Regions from separate parts of the Homo sapiens genome. Here region 2 is linked to region 1. The links come from fine-mapping of genetic effects on gene expression. A gene starts in region 1. The other region holds a variant in brackets. All regions are shown on one strand. Distances are between the middles of the regions.

Evidence for each region.
Region 2: its variant is fine-mapped to the expression of VLDLR in blood mononuclear cells (TOPMed, PIP 0.92).

What each region holds. Positions count from the first base shown.
Region 1 is chr9:2,619,930-2,622,758 of GRCh38, reverse strand. It overlaps VLDLR (very low density lipoprotein receptor), which reads right to left and starts at 972. Exons shown (of 19, transcript NM_003383.5): 1 at 488-972. The coding sequence starts at 569. VLDLR-AS1 (VLDLR antisense RNA 1) reads left to right here and starts at 386. Exons shown (of 4, transcript NR_015375.2): 1 at 386-659. RefSeq lists silencers at 1-27, 298-567, 1,178-1,257 and an enhancer at 1,136-1,430.
Region 2 is chr9:2,647,919-2,650,774 of GRCh38, reverse strand. It overlaps VLDLR (very low density lipoprotein receptor), which reads right to left. Exons shown (of 19, transcript NM_003383.5): 13 at 2,428-2,567; 14 at 1,965-2,106; 15 at 259-405. It overlaps LOC105375957 (a long non-coding RNA gene), which reads left to right. Exons shown (of 3, transcript XR_929436.3): 3 at 1-1,591. Among named protein-coding and RNA genes, the nearest start is that of VLDLR-AS1, 27 kb to the right of the region's middle. The variant G/A (reference allele first, on the strand shown) is at 1,558.

The DNA.
Region 1 (2,829 bases):
CCCTGGCGCTCCGCGTCCCCGGAGGCGCTCACCTTCTCCCCCCGTCCGCTCCCGCACTCCCCGGGGTTCGAGGGTGCGCCCGAGGCTGCCGCACACGTCTTGGCCCTCTGCCTCCTTCCCAACACTGCGCCTGGCAGAGGAGGCAGAACCATTGTTCAATGCTCAGAAGCCCACGCACCTCGGCGCCCGTCAAGAGGGCGAGAAACGAGGCGAAGCAGCGGCTCTGGGGGAGGCGGAGTGAGGGGCAGAAGACTAGTTCAGGCGAGGCGTCGGGGCACCCCGAACCCCGCTGTTCCCCAAGCCCGGCTCCCTTTAGCCTCGGCGCTGACAGCTCAGAGGCGCCACCACGGAGGGGAGGGAGGGAAGGCGAGGAGAACCGAGAGGCGCCTCCTAGGAGGCGGGTGGGCAAACGGAGACCTACGCCTCGGGGTCTCCCGGTGCCCCGGCTGGGTCCCGCCCGCCGGCGGAGGGGCGCGTCCTCACTCACCGGTTCCGGTGGCGCCGCTCTCCCGGGGCGCCCAGCACAGCGCGAGCAGCAGCCAGAGCGCCCAGAGCGCGGACGTGCCCATGGTGCCCGCCTGGATGGTGCCGCCGCCGCCGCCGCCGCCGCCGTTCGCTCCGCACGACAAGTTACCAGTCCTTCCGAAAGGAGGAAGAAGGTGGGGGCGGGGAGGGGAAAGGGGGAGAAGGAGGGGAAGGAGTTGGCGGGGGAAGGGAGCGGGGAAGAAGAGGGCACCCCCTCCCCTACAACTTGCACAGTCTCCTCCCCACCCACCCAGCCACCTCCCCGGGCTGCAGCAGCAGTGCAAGCCGAGCCTGCGGGCAGAAAATAATGCAGGCGCTGCAGAGGAGGGGAGGCAAGGGGAGAGGAGGGAAGGGAGAGGGGGTGGGGAGCCGAGAGCAGAAGAGAGCACAGAACGGAGAGGAGCCGGTAGCGGAGCACCCGCACCGGCGGCGGCCGGAGAGCGGGGTGAGCAGCGGGGAGGGGGCCGGAGGGGGCGTGGTCAACGGGAGGCGCGGCGGGCGGGCGGGAGCGCGGCGGCTTCGGCCCTCCTTTCCCTCGACGCGCTCCTCTTGCACGCGCCGGGCAGCCGGGTGCCCGCGCGGGGAGCGTGCGAGTGTGAGCGTGCGTGAGTGACCGCGGTCGTGGTCGTGGCTGCCGCCGCCGCCACCCGGACCGCTCTAGGGGCCCGGCTGCTCCGCGCGTTCGCCTGGGGCTCACGGGGGCCCGGGGCGACCGCTGGTTGGCTCGCGCGCCGCCCTCGCCTCCAATCCCGGGTGCCTGTCCTAATTTCCTGATCCAGGGAACCTGCCGCCGCAGCGGCTGTGCGCTCCCTACAGTCATTACTGTACCCTCCCGGCAGCCTCCGGCAGAACACGCAGCAGCAGCAGCAGTTAGCGCTGATGCAACTATCGTTGCTGTTGCCACCGCCTCCCCACTGACGGGGCGTGCACCTGGGGGGTACTTGCAGTTTCCAGGGGCAACAAGCATCTCTCTACCACCCTCTCCTGCGCCCCTGAGAGAGGCTGGTAGGTAGCATCTTCTTCGGGCCTCCTCTATCCACTCAGAAAGTGATGAAGCGGAGGGGCTCCAAACGTTTGGGCTGCTCAAAAGTGGGGTTTGGGATGCCGGTCTCAATCGCACGCTGAGATGCCGTTTTGCCGAAAACTAAATGTGTCTTTAAGTGAGAGAGTGTGTATGTTTGAAAGAGAGTGCGCGCGGTTGTGGCTGGTCCTCTGTAATAGAACAAGACTGAAATAACCCAGCCTGGGATGAGGAGAAGGGAAATTGCTAGCGCAGCTTTGCATTTGCTCATCAACGATTATAGTTAATTGCTAATTGCACAAAATGATAGTTTGAGGGCCTGTAATTAAAAGCTTAACCTTTTCTTGTTTGGAAGAGAGGGGCCCCATACGTTTATTCCTCTTGATATACTTTGTAACATTCAATTACAAGAATCGAGGAAAGAATAAAGGAAGCAAAGACAAGACTCCTAGAAAGGGTTGGTTCTTCTTTTGTGCCTGACAGTACCTGAGTCTATAATTTGCTTTTTGTGTACTTCAGTTTTCTTGCACACTTAGCCCTGGTTGAGGTGCATTGTCTGCTGTGGTCTGTTGAGCATCTAACCAGAGTGGGAGGGCACATCGAGCGATTTCACTTTCTTAAATAAAAGGTTTTTGGTATTTTGAAAAAGTTGTTTTTATCTTAATTCAAACTTGGAAGGTTTCAATAATATCATATTCTGACTCTATTCTGTTGGTGATCTGAAGAGCAGCGGGCACTGCCTCACTGTCTTCTCCTTGCCCTGGTTCTCCTGGAAATTTGTCAAGGCTAGCAATCAGAGGAGATGTTTATTAGGAACTTACTATATCCAGGAGACACACAGGAGAGGAAAATTCCAGTCAGGATAGGTTTCTGTGGGCCAAAGATATCCTGATTGTGACTGCTAAGCATGAAAGGGCTTAACTCTACGTATGGATGGTATCTTGCACTATAGCTCATTTTGAATGCTATTTTGCCCACCCTGTGGTTACATAGTTGATACAAACTGCAGCAGCCACACAGGTTGCATGTGAAACAACTGAAATTTGTTTGTATGACATTTAGTAGTGAAGATGCATGCCGGTGTTATTCACCTAATGGCATTGAGATGTGATAGGAAAACCTTAGTGCATGATGTCTTTCATATTCTCAGGGTTCTGAAATGCCATCTGATGAGCTACTGCTTTACAGAAGAGGAAAGGAGTAGAAGGGATGGGTGGAATCAATACAAAAAGAGGCAGCATTAATAAACAGTCATATGACTTGTTTTTAATACTTTACTCAGA
Region 2 (2,856 bases), 28 kb before region 1:
CTCAGTGCTGTTAAGGGACTAGGTACAAATTAGTGTAAGGTATGTTGACACTTTAGTCTCCTATAAACTCATTTAATGTTGAAATGGGTTAAAGTCAGTTCTAAAGAAATGACATGATAACCCGGCATACAATAGCAGATATCTTCTCAAATCTATTCAAAGAATTAGCTAAGACAGAATTCTTAAAAATCCAAGCTTGTGTCTTATTATATTGCTTGTTGTAGGTTCTACTTGTGGTTGAAACACAAAATGCCTTACTTTGACAGTCTCGGCCATTTTCCTCTACATTGTACCCACTGGGACAGGAACAGGTATATTTTGGAGAGTGATCATTAATCTGTGGTGCTGGCAGGCATAGGTATTCACATCCTCCATTCTCCATGTCTTCTTCACACCAATTTTTACCTAGTCAGGAAAAAAAATACCATTAAAATGGGTATTCCGGTGCCTAGTATATATAAAGCCTTGTTCTACATGTTGAAGACCTGAGTCCTTGCCCCCAAGAGCTTAAACTTGTCTACTCTGCTAATCCTTCAAGTGAGAACAGTATCAAGGAAGAATAAGTATACAGGTACAGGCAGCATGCTCTAAGGACACCAGATAAGGGACCTCTTCGAGATAGACTGTAAAAGTTATGCCTTTAAGAGACAGATGCCAAAAGAGGAGGTGGGGAAGGGAGGTGAGGGACCAGGACTGGCTCTCACTATTTGCCCGAGGTTTAGCGTGAAGGCTCAGAGAAAGGAGACTAGGCATGTTCTCCTGGTTTTCTCTTGACTTGCTCCAACAAAGTGGAAGGAAACTCAGCCTTAGGAAGGTTTGAAGGCTTTATTTAGATAGAACCAGCCAAGTGTTTTCAGCAGGAGATAATATAACCCGATGTGTTTGAGAATCTACACAATCCTATATCAGGTGTGTCACAGGGGGAAAGTAGGTGTTATGAGTTGAATGGTGTTCCTCCCTAAAATTCATATAATGAAGTCCTAGTACCTCAGAATGTGATCTTATTTGGAGATATTGAGGATAGGATATTTACAGAGGTAATCAAGTTAAAATGAGGTCATTAAGGTGGGCTCTAATCCAATATGACTGTTATTACAGCTCACGCCTGTAATTCCGGCACTTTAGGAGGCCGAGGCAGGCAGATTACTTTGGGTCAGGAGTTCGAGACCAGTCTGGCCAACATGGTGAAACCCCATCTCTACTAAAGATACAAAGTTTAGCTGGACGTGGTGGCTCACTCCTGTAGTCCCAGCTACTCGGGAGGCTGAGGCAGGAGAATTGCTTGAACACAGGAGGCGGAGGTTGCAGTGAGCCGAGATTGTGCCACTGCACTCCAGCCTGGGTGACAGAGCAAGAGTCAGTCTCCAAAAAACAGAAAAAGAAAGAAAGCAAGAAAGCTGGACACGAGCATATACAGAGGGACGATGATGTGAAGAGACAAAGGGGGAAGAGCACCATCAACAGACCAAGAAGAGGCCTGGAACAGACCCTTCCCTCACAGCCCTCAAGAGGCACCAACCCTCCTGGCACCTTGATTTCAAACTTCTGGCCTCCAGA[G/A]TTTTGAGACAATAAATTTCTGTTGTTTAAGATAGTCTGTGGTACTTCATTGCAAAAATCCTAGCAAACTAACAGTAGAGAAAGCTTGTAGCACAAAAGCTACTTTGGAGGCTACTGCAATAGTCTTGGCAAGAGGGGCTGAAGGCCAAGGGGACATGAATGAAACAGAAATAAAAGCTCTGACACTGAGGCTTGGGAGGAAAGCCAGGAGCTGAAGTTGAGAAGCCATTTCTCTGAGGCAGCAGAAATAAAAAAATAACATGTGAAATGTTTAAGGTAGGGTACAGGAGGGCAAAAGTTCCCTTTTAAAGAAAACTGAGTTGCCAAGAGCTACTGACATCCAGCAGGTTCTGTGTCATGCTGCTTCCCTTAAAGTAGTTATTAAGGACTGTGCTTCTCCACGGTACCTGATGGCTGTACAAGTTCATGATAGACAATGATGTCTTGGGCATCATTCAGGTTGTTGACTAGAGTGGCTAGCTCTGATCCAGTGAATTTATTGGCACCATAGACTGCTTCATTTTCCCCATCTATCCAGTAGACACGATCCTAAAACAGAAGCCCACAATTAGCATGTACATCCAGGATTAACACAAGTCCATTTCTAAGGTCATCATCATTTACTTCTCATTTAATGGACTAAGTTTACTGAATGCTGAACTGGGACACTGGATATAAAACTGTAAAAGAATCAAGTTTAGGTGTGGAGTGCTTCTGGGACTTAGTGTCTGATTTGTACCAGGTTTTAAGTGAAAGCAGTTTCTCAAGCCATGTTCAGCTGCTCTTCCCTCCTCCCGCTATGTCTGTTATTTCTTCTCAAAGTGATATAGTAGCTCAAAGGTACACACTTTGATGTGAGACACATCTTACCTCAAATATTGTTAGTGCAAGAGGATGAGCTAGGAACTCCAGAGACTTTAGTACTATCCTACGATCTTGGCCATTCAAGTCCACGCTGGATAACATGTGCAACTTAGAATCAAGCCAATAGAGGCGACTTTTTATAAGGTCTAGGTAGGAAAAGAATTGTCATTACATGACAAGCCACTACTACTCTGGCTTCCATTAAAAATATCTAATGAATTAATAATCTACTTTCACGGTTCTTTCCCCAGCAGGGTTTCTTAACGGGGTCACCATAAACCTTGCGAAGCAGCATGCAGAGCCTGTATCCACGTTCATTTTTGGGGACTAACAGGGTACCTGAGATTCTCAAAGCAAATGACTTAAGAAATATTACTCACATTACAGAAAATATTAAAAGAGGCTACCATTTTGTTGTTCTCCTCCAAAAAGCCA